Linked DNA regions of Homo sapiens. The protein of the gene in region 4 interacts with the protein of the main gene of each other region in a biochemical or structural test. Each region holds a gene or a part of one and is shown on either strand. Other genes may lie near its edges.

The links. Proteins that work in one complex are often made in the same cells at the same time.
Region 1: the proteins of SNTA1 (region 4) and SLC2A3 interact in a test that uses a peptide from one of them, tested with the Homo sapiens proteins (2 studies listed by BioGRID and IntAct).
Region 2: the proteins of SNTA1 (region 4) and DMD form a complex in vitro, tested with the Homo sapiens proteins (2 studies listed by BioGRID, with this or other methods).
Region 3: the proteins of SNTA1 (region 4) and SLC6A3 interact in a test that uses a peptide from one of them, tested with the Homo sapiens proteins (2 studies listed by BioGRID and IntAct).

What each region holds. Positions count from the first base shown.
Region 1 is NC_000012.12:7,928,990-7,934,003, forward strand, and holds part of SLC2A3 (solute carrier family 2, facilitated glucose transporter member 3), read right to left. Parts: intron 4,914-5,014; coding exon 4,821-4,913; intron 4,159-4,820; coding exon 3,998-4,158; intron 2,497-3,997; coding exon 2,256-2,496; intron 1,654-2,255; coding exon 1,491-1,653; intron 883-1,490; coding exon 695-882; intron 1-694. UniProt on the Homo sapiens protein: Facilitative glucose transporter. Can also mediate the uptake of various other monosaccharides across the cell membrane. Mediates the uptake of glucose, 2-deoxyglucose, galactose, mannose, xylose and fucose, and probably also dehydroascorbate.
Region 2 is NC_000023.11:32,339,852-32,344,865, forward strand, and holds part of DMD (dystrophin), read right to left. Parts: intron 3,436-5,014; coding exon 3,283-3,435; intron 3,000-3,282; coding exon of another isoform or gene 2,991-2,999; exon of another isoform or gene 2,516-2,990; intron 2,432-2,515; coding exon 2,249-2,431; intron 1-2,248. UniProt on the Homo sapiens protein: Anchors the extracellular matrix to the cytoskeleton via F-actin. Ligand for dystroglycan.
Region 3 is NC_000005.10:1,410,243-1,415,256, forward strand, and holds part of SLC6A3 (sodium-dependent dopamine transporter), read right to left. Parts: intron 4,574-5,014; coding exon 4,449-4,573; intron 1,114-4,448; coding exon 1,001-1,113; intron 1-1,000. UniProt on the Homo sapiens protein: Mediates sodium- and chloride-dependent transport of dopamine. Also mediates sodium- and chloride-dependent transport of norepinephrine (also known as noradrenaline). Regulator of light-dependent retinal hyaloid vessel regression, downstream of OPN5 signaling.
Region 4 is NC_000020.11:33,432,769-33,438,198, forward strand, and holds part of SNTA1 (alpha-1-syntrophin), read right to left. Parts: intron 1-5,430. UniProt on the Homo sapiens protein: Adapter protein that binds to and probably organizes the subcellular localization of a variety of membrane proteins. May link various receptors to the actin cytoskeleton and the extracellular matrix via the dystrophin glycoprotein complex.

The DNA of each region.
Region 1 (5,014 bases), on a different chromosome or scaffold from region 4:
CCCTCATAAGAAGCACTGCCACTTCAAATACAAATATCCTGGTGTGCTAGGTAGGAGAAAAGTTCCAAGAACCAACTTACTATTTTGAGCATCAAAATGCTCAAAATAGTAAGTTTTGCAAAATGCTTTGTTACAAAATAATTTAATCCCATTGATCAAAGACTATCTGAAAACCCTTAGGGGATGAATCAGTATTTAAAAAGGTGGGACAAGGGTGCTCTTAATATCCATATTGACTAGAAGGCACAGGAATACTCTCTTCCTACAATCCACAGTCAAATGCAGGAAGCTGATATTTGCATGGAATACAAGGGCTACCTGCCAAATGCTAGCTTCCGTTGTGCCGCCCTCTTTAAACTATCATCTATCATGCCCTCTTTAAACTACCATGCTCGCTATACTAGTTGTAAAAACAGACTGGTAAAGTCAGTTCACTCTGAAGTTGCCAGTGTCCTTCCAGGGTCTTTTTTTTTTTTCCTTTTTTTAAATTTCAGAGACACAGTCTCACTCTGTCTCCCAGGCTGGAATGCAGTGGCATAATTATAGCTCACTGCAACCTGAAACTCCTGAGCTCAAGTGATCCTCTTACCTCAGCCTCCTGAGTAGCTGGGACTACAGAGGCACACCGCCACCATGCCCGGCATTTTAAGTGAAATACTTTAAGACACGTTTGACCCTAAAGTATCACACTCACAGCATTGATCCCAGAGAGCTGCTGAGAGAGCTGGAGCACAATGGAAATGATGATGGGCTGTCGGTAGCTGGACACTCTAAAGAGCTCTAGCACGGTGACTTGCTTTTCTTGTGACATCCTTGCACTCTCATCTTTCATCTCCTGGATGTCTTGGGATACATCCTGGGTGCCCCACAACCGCTGGAGGACTGGTGAAAAGAAGAAAGAGGAAAGGATAAAAGAGAATGTGCTGCCCCAAATTCATTCTTCCTGTAAGGCAGCCAGGAAAGGGCCGCACGAGGTGAGGTGATGGGTAGCATCCATTCCTTTTTTTTTTTTTGAGACAGAGTTTCACTTTTGTTGCCCAGGCTGGAGTGCAATGGCATGATCTCAGCTCCCTGCAACCTCCACTTCCCGGGTTCACACGATTCTCCTGCCTCAGCCTCCCAAGTAGCTGGGATTACAGGCATGCGCCCCCATGCCCGGCTAATTTTGTATTTTTAGTAGAGACAGGGTTTCTCCATGTTGTTTCAGGCAGGTCTTGAACTCCTGACCTCAGGTGACCCGCCTCGGCCTCTTATAATGCTGGATTACAGGCATGAGCCATCACACCCTGCCTGATAGCATCCATTCCTAAACCCGCCTTTTCACCTCATTCTTTAGGGGCTGAAAATTTTACTCAGGAGTAATCAGAACCCTCCTCACTTGGATTCTGAGAGGCAGGGAAAGAGTGTAACAGAAAGTAGGTCCAGTACAATCATCCCTAAAACAAACCACAACCATATAATTCATGTAGTAAGGTGTGAAGGATACTCACTCTGCTTAGCATTCTCCTCTTCTTTTCTGTTAATGAGCAAAAATCTGGGACTTTCAGGGCAAAATGGAAGGGCTGCACTTTGTAGGATAGCAGGAAGGATGGTAAAACCCAGTAGCAGCGGCCATAGCTCTTCAGACCCAAGGATGAATTCCAGACCAAAGATCTAGAAACCACACAAAGATAATGCTATAAACCCCATACTTCACAGGCCACAAGTTCATTAAAACACAAAAAGTTCAGAAAATCATACATTCTTTTACCATGTGAAAAAATAAACAAATTGTGTTTCTTTTCCTTTCTCTACTCAGCATGGTTTTTTTTTTTTTTTTTTTTTTGAGACGGAGTCTTGCTCTGTCACCCAGGCTGGAGATCAGTGGCACAATCTCGGCTCACTGCAAACTCTGCCTACCGGGTTCACGCCATTCTCCCGCCTCAGCCTCCGGAGTAGCTGGGACTACAGGTGCCCGCTACCACGCCCGACCAATTTTTTGTGTTTTTAGTAGAGATGGGGTTTCACCATGTTAGCCAGGCTGGTCTTCATCTGCTGACCTCGTGATCTGCCCACCTCGGCCTCCCAAAGTGCTGGGATTACAGGCGTGAGCCACAGCGCCCGGCCTCAGCCTGCTTCTTCAGCTACTATCTATTATCTAAAACTTCCATATGTAATTGAACATGTGCCAGATATTCTTCAGTGCTTTACCTATGTTAACTTTTTTAATGACCCATGAAACTAACACTCATTAAGTATGAGAAGTTCTAGAGTACCTGGGCCACCAGAATTCCAACAACGATGCCCAGCTGGTTGAGAGTGCCAAAGGCACCCCGCAGGGCAGTAGGCGAGATCTCTCCAATGTACATGGGCACAAAACCTGTGCAGAGTCCGCAGAAGAGGCCAATAACCAAGCGACCCAGGATCAGCATTTCAACCGACTTAGCTACTTTACACAGTCCCATAAAGCAGCCACCAGTGACAGCCAACAGGTTGACAATCAGCATTGAATTGCGCCTGTAAGGTTAATCAAAGACAAAGTAGAATTAGCAAAGTGAGAGGCTCCTAACTTCTCCTCTGTCCTCATTATTCTGTTCTTCTCCAGGCTCATATCATCCCTTTTTTTTTTAATCTAACTTTTGTTTTTCACTTTCTATTATCAGAACATTTCTAGTTGGGAACCAGGTGTGATGGTGCCCGCCTGTAGTCCCAGGCACTCAGGGAGCTGAGGTCGGAGGTCGAAGCTGTAGTGAGCTATGATTGGGCCATTACACTCCAGCCCGGGTGACAGAGCAAGACCCTCTTTCTTGGGGGGTAAAAAAACAAAAGAACAACATAATCAAGTAAAACAGGTTGCTTTACCGATTTTTAAATGTGAATTCCAATTGCATTTCTAGAATATCTAATTGGCATTTTTTTTTTTTTTTTTTGGAGACGGAGTCTTGGTCTGTCACCCAGGCTGGAGTGCAGTGGCAGGATCTCGGCTCACTGCAACCTGCGCCTCCCAGGCTCAAGAGATTCTCCTGCCTCAGCTTCCAAGCAGCTGGGATTGCAGGCGCATGCCACCACGCCCGGCTAATTTTTTGTATTTTTAGTAGGGACAGGGTTTCACCGTGTTAGCCAGGATGGTCTCGATCTCCTGACCTTGTTATCTGCCCGCCTCAGCCTCCCAAAGTGCTGGGATTACAGGCGTGAGCCACGGCACCGGCTTTTTTTTTTTTGAGACGGGGTTTTGCTCTTTCGCCCAGGCTGGTGTGAAGTGGCCAGATCTCAGCTTACTGCACCCTCTGCACCCCCACTGCAGGTTCAAGTGATTTTCCTGCCTCAGCCTCCGGAGTAGCTGGAATTATAGGTGCCTGTCACTACGCCCGGCTAATTTTTGTATTTTTGGTAGAGACAGGGTTTTGCCATGTTGGCCAGGCTGGTCTCGAACTCCTGACCTCAGCTGATCCACTTGCCTCGGTTTCCCAAAGTGCTAGGATTACAGGGGTGAGCCACCACACCGTGCCTAATTGGCAAATTAAAACAGTTCCTTCATTAGTCATAAATGAAAATATATTCTACCTTCTAAAACATATTGTTAAGCTTCTATAGAATAAGACTTTTTTTTTGTCATTATCCACATTTGCCATAGACAAAAATAATTCCTACCAATCCTGGGTAAAATAATAAAAACATTTATAATACAAGTAAACAACTTCGGACCTTGTAAATTAAGTATGTTTCTAGAAACCCCATAGTTGAGTTTACTAGGGAATAATTCTGAACTATCCCTAGCTGGACTGCAAAGGCCAATCACTCACAGTTCATCTCTTGCACAGCTGGGTGGGAGCTCTCCAGGGTAGTAGAGCTCCAAGCAAGGGCAGTCATATTCGGGGCCAGTTGGACTAGGTTTCCCTTGATTAGAATTCAAGGTGTTCTTATTCAAAGGCATCATCACCTCCCTGCCCTAACTCTCCACACTTGTCCTCAATGTGGCTGGTAGAGCCCACTTCCTTGCCCAGTTTCTAGTCAATACCTGCCAAAGCGGTTGACGAAGAGTCCGACGGAAAAGGAGCCGATCATACCCCCGACGGAAAATATGGCCACAGACAAGGACCAGAGAGACGTGAGCAGCACCTCAGAGGGTGGGGCATTTCCCTTGTCCGTCAAAGTTTTATTGATAAATTCCTTTATGATCTGCAAAATAAAAGGGTTGGTGGAAGAACAGACTGTTACAGTTGGATGAGAACAAAAGACAAACATTAGGGATCATTTCCTTCCTAGAGAATCAAGGGAATAAATAGACAGGAATGGAAGGGGCAGATAACGTATTGGAATTTATGTTAACTCTCGCTGGAATAGTAATTCTATTTGTCCTGAAAATCCCAGTAGGTGGCAGCACCGATGTTCACAGTCTACCCCAGCCCTCTGCTAAGGGAACCCAGCTTCTTTGTAACTAACCCCTAAGGGATAATACAGGATGTGCATCACTATGAGGTGAAAGAGTGGGAGGAAGAACAGCACCGCCCAGCGTTCCGGGAGTAAGTGAGCTTTGTGCTTCGATTAGATGACCCCACTAATTTTCCCCACCAATATTGTCTCCATCTTCAGTCTTGGACAGGATAGATACAAAGTTTGTCTTAAAATCCCCTAGTTTGGGGAGGGACCCTCACTAACTGTGTTGCTCAGGATGGTGTTTAACTCCTGGACTCAAGTGATCTTTAAGCCTCAGCCTCAGGAGTAGCTGGGACTCCAGGCAGATGCCACCATGCCTGGCCTTAAATTCTGAATTCCTGAAACCCTACTTAAAGGAATAACTTCCCTATTCTAAATTCTAATTATTGTGGCCTGGCACTCACCTTCTCAGGAGCATTGATGACCCCAGTGTTGTAGCCAAATTGGAAAGAGCCGATTGTAGCAACTGTGATGGCAAATATCAGAGCTGGGGTGACCTGGAGGGAGGGAAGACAGAGGAGAGAATAGTCCTTAAAACTTGTGATTGATGACTGTTTCTTATTAATTATGGAGCTGTATTAGGAGAATTTGAGTTATG
Region 2 (5,014 bases), on a different chromosome or scaffold from region 4:
AAAGTAAAAATCAAACAATTAGAGAAGGAGAATATAGGGGGAGGTAAGAAATTCTGAAGCTATGGCATATGCTGCATCAGAGCCATTGTAAGGTTATATCAAATACTACTTTTCATTAAGCTGTTACTGTGACTATCACAAATGACTCTAGGGCGTAAGAATTGGGAAAGATAACTCTAATCAGTGGCCACAGTGAAATTAGTTTTAAAATGCATTGACAATTGGTCAAGTATAAAGATGTATCTTGAATATTTCTACACCCACCTGTCTATCTATCTACCTACCAACCTATATACCTACTTATCATCTATCAATTATCCCTCAGTTCTAATTAAAATACGATGCCAAATATAACTGCAATATTAAATTGATTATTCTTCATACAGATTGTGATTACTTTATTATCATGGATAATTAAGAGTTAACACAAAAATAGCCCCCTTCACATTCTGAATTTTGGATCTTTAATATATAAAACTTAAGAATAAATCGTTTATGAGGAAAATATATCCCAGAATTTTACTACAATTTTTTAAAAATATATACTGGTTCACACATGCTTCCTTTATTTCACCAGTCATTATTACGTTGTACAAATATTTGTTGAGAGCCTACTATGAATAGGGACATAATGGCATTTTAAGTAAGTGGTTTATGGAGATTTTTGATCCTGTGCCTATTTAGCCATAAAGCATTAGCAACTTGATTAGTTTGTAACGAATTTTAAACCTGCATATTGGGTGTGTCAAGACCTGGGGAAAATTGGAATGGAGAAATGAGTTAGTAGTCAGATAATTCAAAGCAAAGGACTCCCCCTTGAATGATCTATTAAATTGAGGTGAAACTATTTTATTAGAATTTTCTTTTTGATTGCCTTAATCTTTCGCTTCATTTTGCATCTGCAGACACAGGCTTGCTGGTTAGTGTAAGGTTATTTATGACACATTACATTCATAACATCTAATATGAAGGATAATAGGCTGAAACATTCAGCCAGGTGGAATTAGACTTCACATGCAATACAGTTTCGCTATTTCTCGTATTCTTCCAATTGCTCAGAATAATTCACCTGCTATTAAACTTTAGGGTATTAGATTTAACAGAAAACAGTGTATTTATTAATTTTCTTGAAGTATTAAAAGAAGTCACAATAATATGCAACATACTTCCCTTATATGCTTATAAAATTAAGTTATGGTAACTGCTTTTGACATTTTAAAAATATACACCAAATTAAATGGAACTGACACTATCACAGAAGAAGTTCCCAAGAAGTCTCATACATGGGCTGAACCCTATGCAGTTATTATTTACATAGGGCAAAATGGTTGAGTATCTGTTTGATTCATATAATTCAACCTAACTTAACTATAAAGACTTAGTTTCCAGATTTTGACATCCTGGTTTTGTGAGGAGTACTTTCTTCTATAATTACAGATGATGATCATTCCTCTTCATCTTACAAGTGTTAATAATAGGAACAAAAATGTACCTGTCAGAAAACCTCTATGGTTTATACCTACTACAAATAAAGAAGTGAGACCAAGCTAACAATTCTGAATCGCCTTTTTAAAGAGAGAACCATACACTTTCCATTCAGTTGTTTGAAAGAAGAGCAGTCACTCCTTTTTGTTTTGGCTGGTAACATTTCAGTAATAACATTATCTGATATTGTTCAATCTGCAATCAATTAGCAACCATCTTACTAGGCATCCAGTTCTTTTATGGGCACTGTAACCCATTAAGTAGTTAAACCAGGTGTGAGGATTAAGCTATTATTCTTCAAGTCAATGAGATAATGGCTTATGCAGGTTGACATAAGATGTACCATGAAATATTTATTATTTATCATGTATACATTAAGAAAGTAAAATCAGCATGGGATGATCTCAGGAAAGCAATACATATTTTTTGGATTAGACATTGAAGTAAAGTGAATGTATGATAAATTGACAAATTAACATTGCCAATGTTATGAAAAATGATGTAGCAAAAAAAATTAAGATGTATTTTCATTTTTGATAAGGGGTTTTCCCTGTTATCTGTTAATTTCTTGTGTCTTTAATTGGCAAAATTAAGCACTAGTGTTACAGAAGCCCAAAGTGAGGGAAACCACTCACTTTCAGAATGTACATTAGAAGTTTAAAACTGTACCCAGATTTTTTGTCTCTTTTTTTTTTATTAGTAGGCCTCTGTTAATAGAGTAGTAGTTGCAAACACATACGTGGGTTTGCCAGTAACAACTCACAATTTGTGCAAAGTTGAGTCTTCGAAACTGAGCAAATTTGCTCTCAATTTCCCGCCAGCGCTTGCTGAGCTGGATCTGAGTTGGCTCCACTGCCATTGCGGCCCCATCCTCAGACAAGCCCTCAGCTTGCCTACGCACTGCATTCAGCTCCTCTTTCTTCTTCTGCAATTCCCGATCAATTTCCTATTGAGCAAAACCAATACAGGGCCCAGGGCAGTTAGCTAACCACATCAACCGACTTGCAAGCAGCAAATACTTCTCTCAAAATTTCAAAGGCTGTTGTCCCTTTATTGTCATCCTTTGAAGTTTACAAATATGAAAGGCATGACTGTCATCCTCGCTCAATAACCCAAATATTATTTCAGTTATCCTTTGAATGCTTGGTTTTAGATATTCTAATTAAGTAAATATTGAAATTGGTCTAACATTTTCTTTCTTCTAAATTCCTCTGGTGTCTTGGGATTTGAAACAATTTGGAGTGATAACTCATTATTTATTAGGGACCGTCCACATAGAATATAATTTAGAGGGTAAGTGAATAAGTTATTTATTTCCTTTTTAAAGGTTTGAGGAACTCAACAGAGAATGAAGCAAAATAAAAAGTGTAAAATAATAACAGAAAAAAACATATTTAGACAATATGCAAATAAATCTATAGAGAGTGAACACTGATGTGTGAAGATGCTCTGATGAAATGAATGGGCTAACATGAGTAAGAAGTCGTCCATATACCGATAAGTCATTAGTTCATCTGGAACAAAGATACACAAAGTCAATTACAATTTTACCAGAAAACACATCACATTTCTTAAATCACTTTACATAGTCTAAAACATTTTATTCATTCAACATTACGTCAATTGAATAACACTTAATACAATACATTTACTGAAAACAACACACAATACAAGGAAATGCATCAAATCAAAGAGAACGTTAATAGAAACAAGAACATCAACATTTTAAATATGATCTTCACAGGTTAATTAAACTGTATAATAAAATCTGGTATTGACATTCTAAAACAACATTACCTTTATTTTCCTTTCATCTCTGGGCTCAGGTAGGCTGGCTAATTTTTTTTCAATGTCATCCAAGCATTTCAGGAGATCATCAGCCTGCCTCTTGTACTGATACCACTGATGAGAAATTTCTAGAGCCTTTTTTCTTCTTTGAGACCTCAAATCCTGTTCATGGTGCAGACATTATTAAAATATCAATATATATGTATAGTGCACTTCTGGCTGCAGTTATTTATCAAAATAATTTGCGTCCCTCATCTTTTTGTACAACTTAGGTTAAAATCATATTTAAATGCAAAATATACAAAGACATAATTAAATTGCCTATGCATGAGGCGGGACCCATGTATAGGAAGCTAAGAAACCTGAATAACACACTTAAAGTATTTTCTCTTAGCATGTTCAAACTTGCTTAAAAATTTTGTCACATTCAATTGACTCTTAATGAGCTAACTGTTGTGTAGTTTATGTGCAAGAGTTTAATATACGAATACAATTGACTTAACTAGATACAAACTCACAAACCTAGTGAGTTTGTATCTGACTTAAAATAGGTAAAATTCTAAAATGTATATCTTTAGCCTTGGGGCTCATCAACAAAACTTTATGTACTCAACCAATATACATTCATGTTTTTAGAAATGCCTACATAAGAGTTTCATAGGCCATTAATATTTTATGATTAGAAATATAAAGCCATTTTAGTTGTCTTATAAACTGTTCCAAGCTGTATGTGTAGAAGTGTCACCACTGTTCGTATATTGGTGAACATAACTAATAAAAAATTATGTGAGATAAATGCTTCTCCTTCCAAGGCTTGCATAGCCACATTTATCTTACTATACCAAATCATGCTCTAAATGCAAAACAATTAACTATTTGAAAAAAGAAAACAGCAAGTGCATGCTTTCAAATCAATGTGATAAGACTAATTTAATAAATCAACAATGGGAGGAAATCAGTCATCATGCTCTTTACAAGCACACTCAATATCTTCTGTGATTAATAGAATTACTCAAAATGCCATTTTATAATTCATGGGAACATAAGCTCTGCATGCAGCTTTCATTTCTACAGAAAGTAGCAATTAGGGTTTTATTCACAGGTTTAATTCGAGCGAAAAAATAATAAATATCAGGGAATTTCTAAAAATTTCATTCCATTGGAAAATTTTGACCTTCTCTAAAATATTTCATAAGGACCAGAATTGGAACTATTTGACAGGTTTAAAAAGTTATTGAATATGTTGGTATAGATTGGTTTGGCGAGTAGTGTTGACGATTTTGATTAATCACTTATAGCCTGTATTTGCAAGAATGAACTACATTTCATTATCTAGTTTGTTTAAAATTGGGAATTTAAACCTTGCTGTACTTTATGTTTTATGTTGAATTTTCAAACCTTCTGAGGAGTCAGATCGAACGCTGCTTTTTTCAAAGGTAGCAAGATACAGCCACGTGAATTAGAGTTGAGCCATGCCTTATTTGTGACATAACTCACATCTTTGCCAGGAGAAAGGGCTTGGTGGTCATCAATCTGAAACATCTTTCATTTCCTAAGCACAAAGTGATGTATAATATGTAAAATATTTAGAGATGTCATGTAGATTTCTTTAGAGGAATGCCAGATGACCATTAAACACTGCTATTCAGTAGGACACACACCATCATACGACCAGTGTAGATACTTCTGAAAGCTTGCTCACAGTTGGAAGGGTGTGAGTTACATAGCGTTCCGATTTTCT
Region 3 (5,014 bases), on a different chromosome or scaffold from region 4:
TTGGCTACGCCTTCCCGACGGAGCCTCCTGACTCCTGGCATCCTCCTGTGGGACACCGTCCAGGCACCTGACTCCTGCTTAGTGACCTTCTTCACCTTGCTCGGTCCAGACCCCTCTTCATGCTCTCATGTCAGGAACATGAGGCCTGTGGTCAACCCAGGAGCCGTGGACGAGGTGGATAGGATATGAGTGGGGGGCCGGGTGCATGACCAGCGTTTATAAGGCAAGGGATTCTGGGTTCTTTGGTCCCAAGCAGCTGACAGGGAAGAAGGAGCCTGAGAAAGTCCAGCAGGCCCAGGGCCGATCAAGGGCTGGACCCGCCACCCCCAGCAGCTGGAGGTGCAGGGGCCACACACAAAGCATTCAGGGCCAGGCCTGGGATTGGTAGGTGCCAGGAACTTCTGTTGCCCTCCTCATTCCTCATGGGGTAGCTGAGGCTTCCAGGGAAAGCCACGAGATATGAAGGACCTGCTGTGTGCCCTCCAAGGCCCCACCACTCTGGTGTCCGGAGCCAAGTCTTTGGTGGCTGGGGCCCTGCTACACGTGCATGCATGTCTGTGTGTATGTGTGTGTGCATGCGTGTGTGCATGTGTGTGTTCGTGTGTGTTCATGTATGTGTGCGTGTGTGCATGTGTGTATGTGTGTGCATGCATGTGCATGGTGGTGTGAATGTGTGTGTTCGTGTATGTGTGTATGTGTGTGCGTGTATGTGTGTGTGTGCATGTGTGTGCACATTTCCAGGATCTGTAGGTGGCTCAGGGCAGGGCACACAGGTACCCCAGAGTAGGGGGATAAAGGGAAAGGTAAACTCCAGTCACCACTCACTCCAGCCCCGAGAAAGGTCTCCCAAATAATCACGGGGCTCGCCCAAGTCAAGGACAGGAGGTCTGGGGGCCGTACGTGAGCCCAGGGATCTTGCCTAGCCCTGGGAGGGCAGGGCCCCCTCGGGTGGAAGGAACCCAACTGCCGAGGACAGGGCCGGGCGGTGCGGGTTACTCACGGCGCTGTCGATACCCAGGGTGAGCAGCATGATGAAGAAGACCACGGCCCAGGCTGAGGACAGAGGGAGCGTGGCGATGGCTTCCGGGTAGATGATGAAGATCAGCCCTGGCCCTGAAACAGAACCCGCCCTGCTTGCCACAGAGCCCACGCTGTGCTCTCCCGCCCATCCTGCCCCACCCCGCCCCGAGAAGCATGGCCTGCCACAGGCCTGTAGAGACTAGGGCTGGTGCGGCTCTGCTGAAAAGCCCCCTTCTATATGTCCAGCAGACCAGGCCTGGGACTCAGGAAAGCGGAAACCCAGAACTGATCAGAGGGCTTTGGTTCATGCCCACCACCCAGCAATGGGGCTCCTCCAAATTACCTGGGTCCTTTTGGGCTATGGGGGTGCTTGGGGAAGGAAGGGGCAGAAACAAGGAGGAGCAGGAGGGGCTTCCAGGCTGGTCCTGCCCTTCATCCCAGGGACATCTGCTAATGTCCTTCGAGTTAGTTTTTCCTGCACATACCATGCAACATACACACTCAGACACACATACCATGCAACATACACACTCAGACACACATACCATGCAACATACACACTCAGACACACATACCATGCAACATACACACTCAGACACACATACCATGCAACATACACACTCAGACACACATACCATGCAATATACACACACAGACACATGCGCGCACATGCACGAACACTCATTTGTGCATTCAAACTCATACATGCAAGAACACATCCACATGCACGCACACAAACAGAAACATGCACGTGCATGCACAAACATACACAAACACACACAAATCACACACGTCCACACTATTTAGTAGCCTAATTTCTAAAATTAGCAAAACATTTAGGGATACATTCCTGACCTCCGCCTTCCAGGCACATGAGGAAGCTGAGGTCCTCCCACCCTCCCGTGAGGTTAGACGTGGCTGCACTTGGCCAATGTGCTGTGAACCCACAGTGAGCGGGTCCCTGCGAGTGAAGCTTGGTAGAGGAGTGTGTGGCTCCTTCACCACCTCCCCTGCCACGGGGTCCCGCAGGCCATATTGAGACAGGCTCCTGTCAGCTGGGGCCCTGAGGGCTCAGAGGAGCAGCACATCCTGATGGATACAGGGGCCCAGATGGTGGCTTCGGAGATAAGAGACAAACCTGCTACCTTGCTATCCCTGCAAGCGAGGGGCACGCCAGGCTGAGGGCGGCATGGCAAAGGCGGAGGAGGTGTTCCCCCACAGCTCTCTCGGGAAACGACACGTGCTTCCTGCTACCAGCAGGCAGACTCGGATGGAGGTGGAGGGGACGAGAGTGTGGCAGGCAGGCGACCAAAAGTCAACGCAGTTTGGTCTCTGATGACCCCAAAGTAAAAACCAGTCCCATAGGCAATTGACCTTTGACCAGTTCAGAAGCCTTGCATCCTCCACTGGCTGGCACCATCTCCCAAGCCCAATCTGCCTGCAACAGAGTCCCCTGTCCTCAGCAGGCACGTGTCTGGCCCTAGCCTGCAGGAATAGGCCTGCGCCTGGCCTTTTAAATAATCAAAGGCCAGAGCCAGGGGCCGTTCCTAAAGGTCTTTCAGGGGCCTCACTATCAGCCAAGCAGCGGGGTCAGACCTGGGCTCTCGCAGCTCCCAGATACCCTGGTGGATGGGGACAGCCTCCGCGTGGGGTGGGGGAGGCAGGCTCGCCTGAGATGTTCCGGGGCTTAGATGGTACCAGCCAGGAGCCTGGGAAGATATTCATCAGCTCAGGGAATGTAATGTCAACACCCGTGCCTTCGTTTCTGTACCTAAGTTAACATTTCACCCTATTTTCTTGAGAATTAAGGCTGTAAATGACATTTACTTTGCTTGTCATGAAATGCACAGAAGAACATTCAACTTTATTTTCAGGGGTTAATAGAGGTTTTTGCAAACTATGCTCGTTATCATAATAAAGGGCAAAAAGAATGAAGAAAAGGCATAAATGCGGCACCGAGTAAATTTCACTGCTCTGCATTTATTTGCAGATGTTCCCTTTCTCCCGCTTTGACTGAATTTTTTTTCCTAGTGGAAAGAACATGGGCTTAGGAGGCCCACCTCTGAGCTGTGGCTCCAGCCCCGACCCTGGCTTTCTGTTGCAAGCATGGAGTGGGCCCTTTCAGGTCTCTGAGCGTGTTCCTACCTGCGGTGCGAGGGTCCTAGTGCCCCACTCTGTGAGACTCAGGTGCGGTCAAGGCTGCCCCCGCTTGGTGCTTGTCGCTCCCCGCCTTCACTGAGCCTCAACACCCAGGCAGAGATCAGTCAGCAACAACACCCACACGGGACAGGGGCTTTTCTGAGCACAATCATTCCTCACAAATGTAGTGCCCCCACCCCACCCCCGGAGAAGACAGTCCAGAGGAAGCAAGGATGGGGACGCAGCATGGGAGCCCACCCAACCCAGGCCCGTGTCTGGAGCGAAAGGGCCTCCTCCACATCCATGTGGCAGAGCAGGCCGGGAGGCAGGCGGGGGCTCTGCTGGCTGACAGAGACCGAGAAGCCTTGGGACTCCCTGGAGCTCTCGGTTGGCCCAAGTTAGGGCTGCCAACGCCACAGCTTTCCACTGCAAGCACCGGAGCCAGGCACGTGGCCCCAAGTGCCTGGGCCCACTCTCAGCCCCTGCATCTGTGCCCGTCCTGCCGGCTCCATCCTGCCTGGCACACTTCTTGCTGTGGCCAAGGCCTCCCCCCACCACTCACCTGTGCCTGCCCGAGACCTGGACCCCTCCCCACCCTCTCGGAGACAACTCCAGGCGTGCAGGGACACTCAGCGTCATGCGTCGGCCTGGGGAGCGGGCAGGGACACCCTGTGCTGGAGGCCCCAGGGATCTCCCGGCTGCTCTGTGGCCAAGCTGATGTTTGCGGCATCCCAGCCTGCCTCCAGGTGTTGCTGGAACAGCTCATTCCTCCCCTTCCCTGAGCTGCATGTTCCCACACCGCGTGGCAAGCAAACATCTAGAGGGCCCTCAGTGACAGCATCTACGCCAGACCCTGGTGGGGCAGCCTCATGTGGCATCTGCAGGGAGCAGTCGAGGGACTGAGGCACCAACTATGCTGCTCAGCTGCATTTGGGCTTGAGGTTCCCCAGCCCAGGGTGGAGGCCCCGAGAGGCACAAGGCAGGAAAGGCACTGGGTGGGGGGGCCTGGAGGGGCAGGGCGGAGAAGGCACTGGGTGGGGGGCCGGGAGGGGCAGGGCGGGGAAGGCGCTGGGTGGGGGGCCTGGAGGGTCAGGGCGGGGAAGGCGCTGGGTGGGGGCAGGTCTGTACTGGGATGTGTACCACCATCCTTCAAGAGTGAGGCAGCAACTCTCACTGAAGTCGCTCAGGGCCCATGCGTCTCCTTCCTCTTTCACAAGGAAAAAGGCTTTGCTGAGAGCTCGGCGCTGGTGCTACACGGAGCAGGCCCAGGTGCAGCAGGAGGGGCTCACCGTCCTTGGCCACGTCCCCGATGGGCACACTGTGCTTCTGTGCCATGTACCCCAGGAAGGAGAAGACGACGAAGCCGGAGGAGAAGCTCGTCAGGGAGTTGATGGAGGTGGTGACAATCGCGTCCCTGTAAGAACAAGACACGCCGTCTCAGGAACCAGCTGAGCTGCAGCAGCTGCAATTTTCCAGTCATTATTCTTAATTTACTGTGTCTGGGGAAGGGGGCGGGAGGTCTTCGGAGGGGCTACTTTTCCCAGTGAGCACGGCCAGCTCCTTAGCAGCCTGGCAGAGCTGTCCTTGGGCCACCTTGGTCCCCTAGCTGAGCTGCTCAAGGCTCAGCCATCAAGGCTCAGGGTGGGCAGAACAGACGGCCACCCCTGTGCCCCGCGAGTCTTGCTGTGGACACCTCACCCAGGGCAGATCTTCCAGAAGCTCTAGGAGCACACACCTCCCGGGGACCTCGCTAAGATGCAGATCCTGACTGGGCGGGTCTCATGGGGTCTCGGGGGCTGTGTTTCCCATGAACTCCCAAGGGCGCTGGTGCTGCGGGCCTGGGGGCCCCACTCTG
Region 4 (5,430 bases):
GAGGATCGCTTGAGCCCAGGAGTTGAGGCTGCAGTGAGCTGCAATCACACCTCTGTGCTATAGGCTGGGCAACAGAGTGAGATCCTAAATAAATAAATAAAAGCCTGATCTCTATGAGGGCTATACCTTCCTTACTTTATATAAAGCACTAAAATTCACTTTATTAATTTTTTTTTTTTGAGATAGAGACTCACTCTGTCACCCAAGCTGGAATGCAGTGGTGCAATCTTGGCTCACTGCGACATCCACCTCCTGGGTTCAAGTGATTCTCCTGTCTCAGCCTCCTGAGTAGCTGGGATTACAGGTGCCTGCCACCACGCCCAGCTAATTTTTATATTTTTCGTAGAGATGGAGTTTCACCATTTTGGCCAGGCTGGTCTCGAACTCCTGACCTCAGGTGGTCCACCCACCTCAGCCTCCCAAAGTGCTGGGATTACAGGCGTGAGCCACCTTGCCTGGCCTTAGTATTATTTTTTGTTTTTTGTCGGGTTTTTCTTTTTTCTTTTTTTTTTGAGATGGAGTTTTGCTCTTGTTGCCCCAGGCTGGAGTACAATGGTTCGATCTTGGCTCACTGAAACCTCTGCCTCCTGGGTTCAAGCAATTCTCCTACCTCAGCCTCCCGAGTAGCTGGGATTACAGGCGCGTGTCACCATGCTCAGCTAATTTTTGTATATTATTAGTAGAGACGGGGTTTCACCATGTTGCCCAGGCTAGTCTCGAACCCCTGACCTCAGTTGATCTGCCTGCCTCAGCCTCCCAAAGTGCTAGGATTACAGGCATGAGTCACCGCGCCCAGCCAGCATTATTTTTAATGCATGACAGGCTCACTGTTGTCACAGTCCTGCCAGCCACACTGGAATGGGAGGAGGGAAGGGTGTTTTCCTTGAGGCTGTCCCTCCCTCTTCCCCCAGGCCTGGCCTTCAAGGGCCCAGGCTGGCCCTGGCTTGAGGTCTGCACACACAACGGGCCTCTCGAAGCAGCGGACAGACACTTGTTGGCTGCCAACTTGGGCCCAGACTGTGGTCACAAACACACCCCTCTGGCTGAGAACAGGATCAGGACATTTCTGCAAACCCCTGACCTAGTAGAAGAAATGTTCTAGGAGGCAGGTTGGGGTTGCTGAGGCTCAGCTGAGCCCCCAACTTAGGCCAGGGAAGTAAGGCTCTAGCTGACACCTGGAGTTTGCTGGTAATGCTTGTTCTCCCAGGACATCCTCAGGGGATTCACTATCCACTGAGCTGGAAAAATATCCAGTTGCCTTGCCAAGTTCACATCCAAAGGACAGGCCATCCTTCCATGGCCCCTTGGAGGCGTCCTCAGTAATGGGATGTGAGTGGGGAAATGTTGAACAATGTGGTCAGTGATTCAACTCCGGGGAAACCTAGGCCCAGAGAGGGTCCCAGGAACCCTGGCTGCTCCAGACTGGTGCAACTGCCAGGCCCAGACCTTCTCCACTCCCCAAAGTCTCAAGGACCAGCCACAGCCCAGCATCCTCCTATCCTTCAGACCTCTCTGATCACTCTTGCCATTCAGAGATTCCTGACTCCAGTGCCTTCCACCACTCCTCCTCCCCTCTTTGTGCTATCTTGAGTGGAATGACCTCCTTCCATGAGATCTTGGGCCAGGAGAATAGGTCGAAAAAGACTTCAACTAAGGAAAAGTGGGGAAAAACATGAAGGCCACATTCTTCTTTCTCTTACCCAGGCCATAGGCAGGGTTCACCAAGGAATGATCTCGTCCTGTGAAACATCTCAGAGAATATAAGAGCAGGGGCCCCTCAGTCCTGGGATGATACACATGTTACTTCTCTACTGCATCTGTAGTAGACATTGCTAATCAATTCCAGCTCCTTTCTGCTGAGCCCAGACAAAGCCTCCCAATCCTTCCAAATATGGAACTCACAGAACCACCAGTGGAGCTGACGCTTACACTCTTTTTTTTTTTTTTCCTACAGAGATGAAATCTCACTGTGTTGCCCAAGCTGGTCTCGAACTCCTGGGCTCAAGTGATCTGCCCACCTAAGCCTCCCAAAGTGTTGGGATTACAGGCGTAAGCCACCACGCCTGCCTGGAGCTGCCACTCTAAATAAAAGCTATTGATCACCTCTGATCTAGCCTAACTTCAATAGGAAAACTGAGTCCCCTAGAAGGCAAGGGTCTTACCCAAGGCCAAACAGAGATTTATTGCAGAGCAGACAGGATTTCAGGCACCAGCTTTTTTTTTTTTTTTTTTTTTTTTTTTGAGATGGATTCTTGCTCTTGTCGCCCAGGCTGGAGTGCAGCGGCACAATCACGGCTCACTGCAACCTCCGCCTCCCGTGTTCAAGATTTTCCTACCTCAGCCTCCTGAGTAGCTGGGATTACAGGCACGCGCCACCATGGCTCAGCTAATTTTTGTATTTTTAGTAGAGACGGGGTTTCGCCATGTTGGCCAGGCTGGTCTCAAACTCCTGGCCTCAGGTGATCCACCCGCCTCAGCCTCCCAAAGTGCTGGGATTACAGGCGTGAGTCACAGCACCTAGCCACCGGCTTTTAAAGAGTTTCTGTAGGCCAGGCATGGTGGCTCACGTCTGTAATCCCAGCACTTTGGGAGGCCCAGGCAGGCAGATCACTGAGGCCGGGAGTTCGAGACCAGCCTGGCCAACATGGCAAAACCCTGTCTCTACTAAAAATACAAAAATTAACCAGGCCGTGGTGGTGCACACCTGTAATTCCAGCTACAGAACTGAGGCAGAGAATCGCTTGAACCTGGGAGAAGGAGGTTGCAGTAAGCTGAGATCGCACTACTGCACTCCAGCCTGGGCAACAGAGTGAGACCCTGCCTCAAGAAAAAAACACAGTTTGTGTAGAGGAGATAGTGTTTATGTTTTGTCTACCCTACCACATGGTGAGCTCCTTCAGGAGAGGCCCTGGGTGTAGTTTAGCTTCTGACCTTAATATACACAGCAGGCACACAGTAGATGTCCATGAATGTCTCTTGGCTTAGTGAGGAGGAATGCATGACATGAGTTAGAGGGAAGGCTTGAGTATTCACTCCTAAAGTCAGAAGATGCTTCAAGGTCACACATTTACAGATACTACCTTCTCAAAACGACATACATGGGAACCCAGATAGATACATTTTTAATCTAAAGATGAGGAGGTGGGCCGGGCGCGGTGGCTCACGCGTGTAATCCCAGCACTTTGGGAGGCCGGGGCGGGCAGATCACAAGGTCAGGAGATCGAGACCATCCTGGCTAACACGGTGAAACCACATCTCTACTAATAATACAAAAAATTAGCCAGGCGTGGTGGCGGGCACCTGTAGTCCCAGCTACTTGGGAGGCTGAGCAGGAGAATGGCGTGAACCCGGGAGGCGGAGCTTGCAGTGAGCCGAGATCCCGCCACTGCACTCCAACCTGGGTGACAGAGCAAGACTCTGTCTCAAAAATATAAATAAATAAAAATAAAAAATAAAGATGAGGAGGTGAGGGGACCTCCGTGTGAATGTGGATTTGAATTGTGTCTATAGCAGAAATTTTACCATAGACTAAACTTTCAAACAACAGAAGCTAAAAGAGCTTTCAAGTCAACTAAAATATGACATTTCGATGAATGTCAGTGGTTTCAAACCGCATTGCTGACTATAAATATCAAAGTAATGAGGCATGTGGGGAAAGTCTCTTATATCCATATCATTTATGTGGCATTCTATTATTTAACTTTGCCATTAAAATATGATTGATACACTTAAGCTTCTAAGGATCAACACTCTAGAGTCAGCTTTTTTTAAGTATCAAAAAAATGCATCTAGACTGGGCACTGTGGCCTGCAATCCCAGCACTTTGGGAGACTTAGGTGGGAGGATCCCTTAAGCCCAGGAGTTGGAGACCAGCCCAGGCAACATGGTGAAACCCTGTCTCTACAAAAAATTGGCTAGGTGTGGTGGCTCACGCCTGTAATCCCAGCACTTTGGGAGGCCGAGGCAGGCAGATCACGAGGTCAGGAGTTCGAGACCAGCCTGGCCAATATGGTGAAACCCTGTCTCTACTAAAAATACAAAAAAAAAATTAGCCAGGCGTGGTAGTGCGCACCTGTAGTCCCAGCTACTCGGAAGGCTAAGGCAGAAGAATCGCTTGAACCTGGAAGGCGGAGGATGCAGTGAGCCAAGATCGCGCCACTGCTCCAGCCTGGGCGACAGAGTAAGACTCCATCTCAAAAAAAAAAAAAAAAAAAAGCTAGGCGCAGGGGCTCACACCTGTAATCCCAGCACTTTTGGAGGCTGAGGCAGGTGGATCACAAGCTCAGGAGTTTGAGACCAGCCTGGCCAATATGGTGAAACCTCATCTCTACTAAAAATAAAAAAATTAGCCGGGCATGGTGGTGGGTGCCTGTAATCCCAGCTACTCAGGAGGCGGAGGCAGAAGAATTGCTTGAACCCGGGAGACGGAGGTTGCAGTGAGCCGAGATCATGCCACTGCACTCCAGCCTGGGCAACAGAGTGAGACTCCATCTCAGAAAAAAAAAAAAATTAACCAGGTGTGGTGGCATGCATCTGTAGTCCCAGCCACTCAGGAGGTTGAGGTGGGAGGATTGTTTGAGCCCCGGGGGGTGGAGGGTGCATTGAGCCAAGATCATACTACTGTACTCCAGCCTGGGTGATAGAGCAAGACCCTGTCTCGAAAAAAAAAAAAAACAAGAAAAAAAAATGCATCCATGGCATTTAAATAGATATACCTAAAATATAAAATAAAACTTTACATTTTATTTTCTTTATTTAAATTTTATTTTATTTTATATCTGGGTCAACCAAGGACCGAGAACCTATTTGCTTCTGTGGCCTCTTGGACACTCCTTTAGGGAAACCAAGGCAACCCACCAGGATTTGGGCCTGGGACTCAACTCAGCAGCTTCTCTGGCCGTGTTATTCTCCATCAGCCCCCGCCACCTCCCTGTGCCTGTTCTGGGCCATAAGCCAGAGACACATTCCTCAGGCCCCCACGGGGCTTCCAGAGCTGACAGAGTTTGAGGAAAGGGCTGAGCAAAGCAGAAACCTCTTGAGAGACATGGCACAAGATGGTCATGGGACAACCTCAGCAGGAGGCGTGTAACAACTGATGGGGAAACCGAGGCCCACAGAGGGCAAGGGTCCCACCCAAGACCACACTGTGAGGGAACAGTGGAGAAAGCCATTCAACCAAGGTTCCTCCACAAAACTCCTCTCTGATCCTGGCTGGAAGGATTTGATGTCCTACTCTATAAAAGCCAAGGCCTCTGGGCGTGGTGGCTCATGCCTGTAATCTCAGCACTTTGGGAGACTGAGGTGGGTGGATCACCTAAGGCCAGGAGTTCAAGACTAGCCTGGCCAACATGGCAAAACCCTGTCTCTACAAAAATATAAAAATTAGCTGGGCATGGTGACGCACACCTGTAATCCCAGCTACTTGGGAGG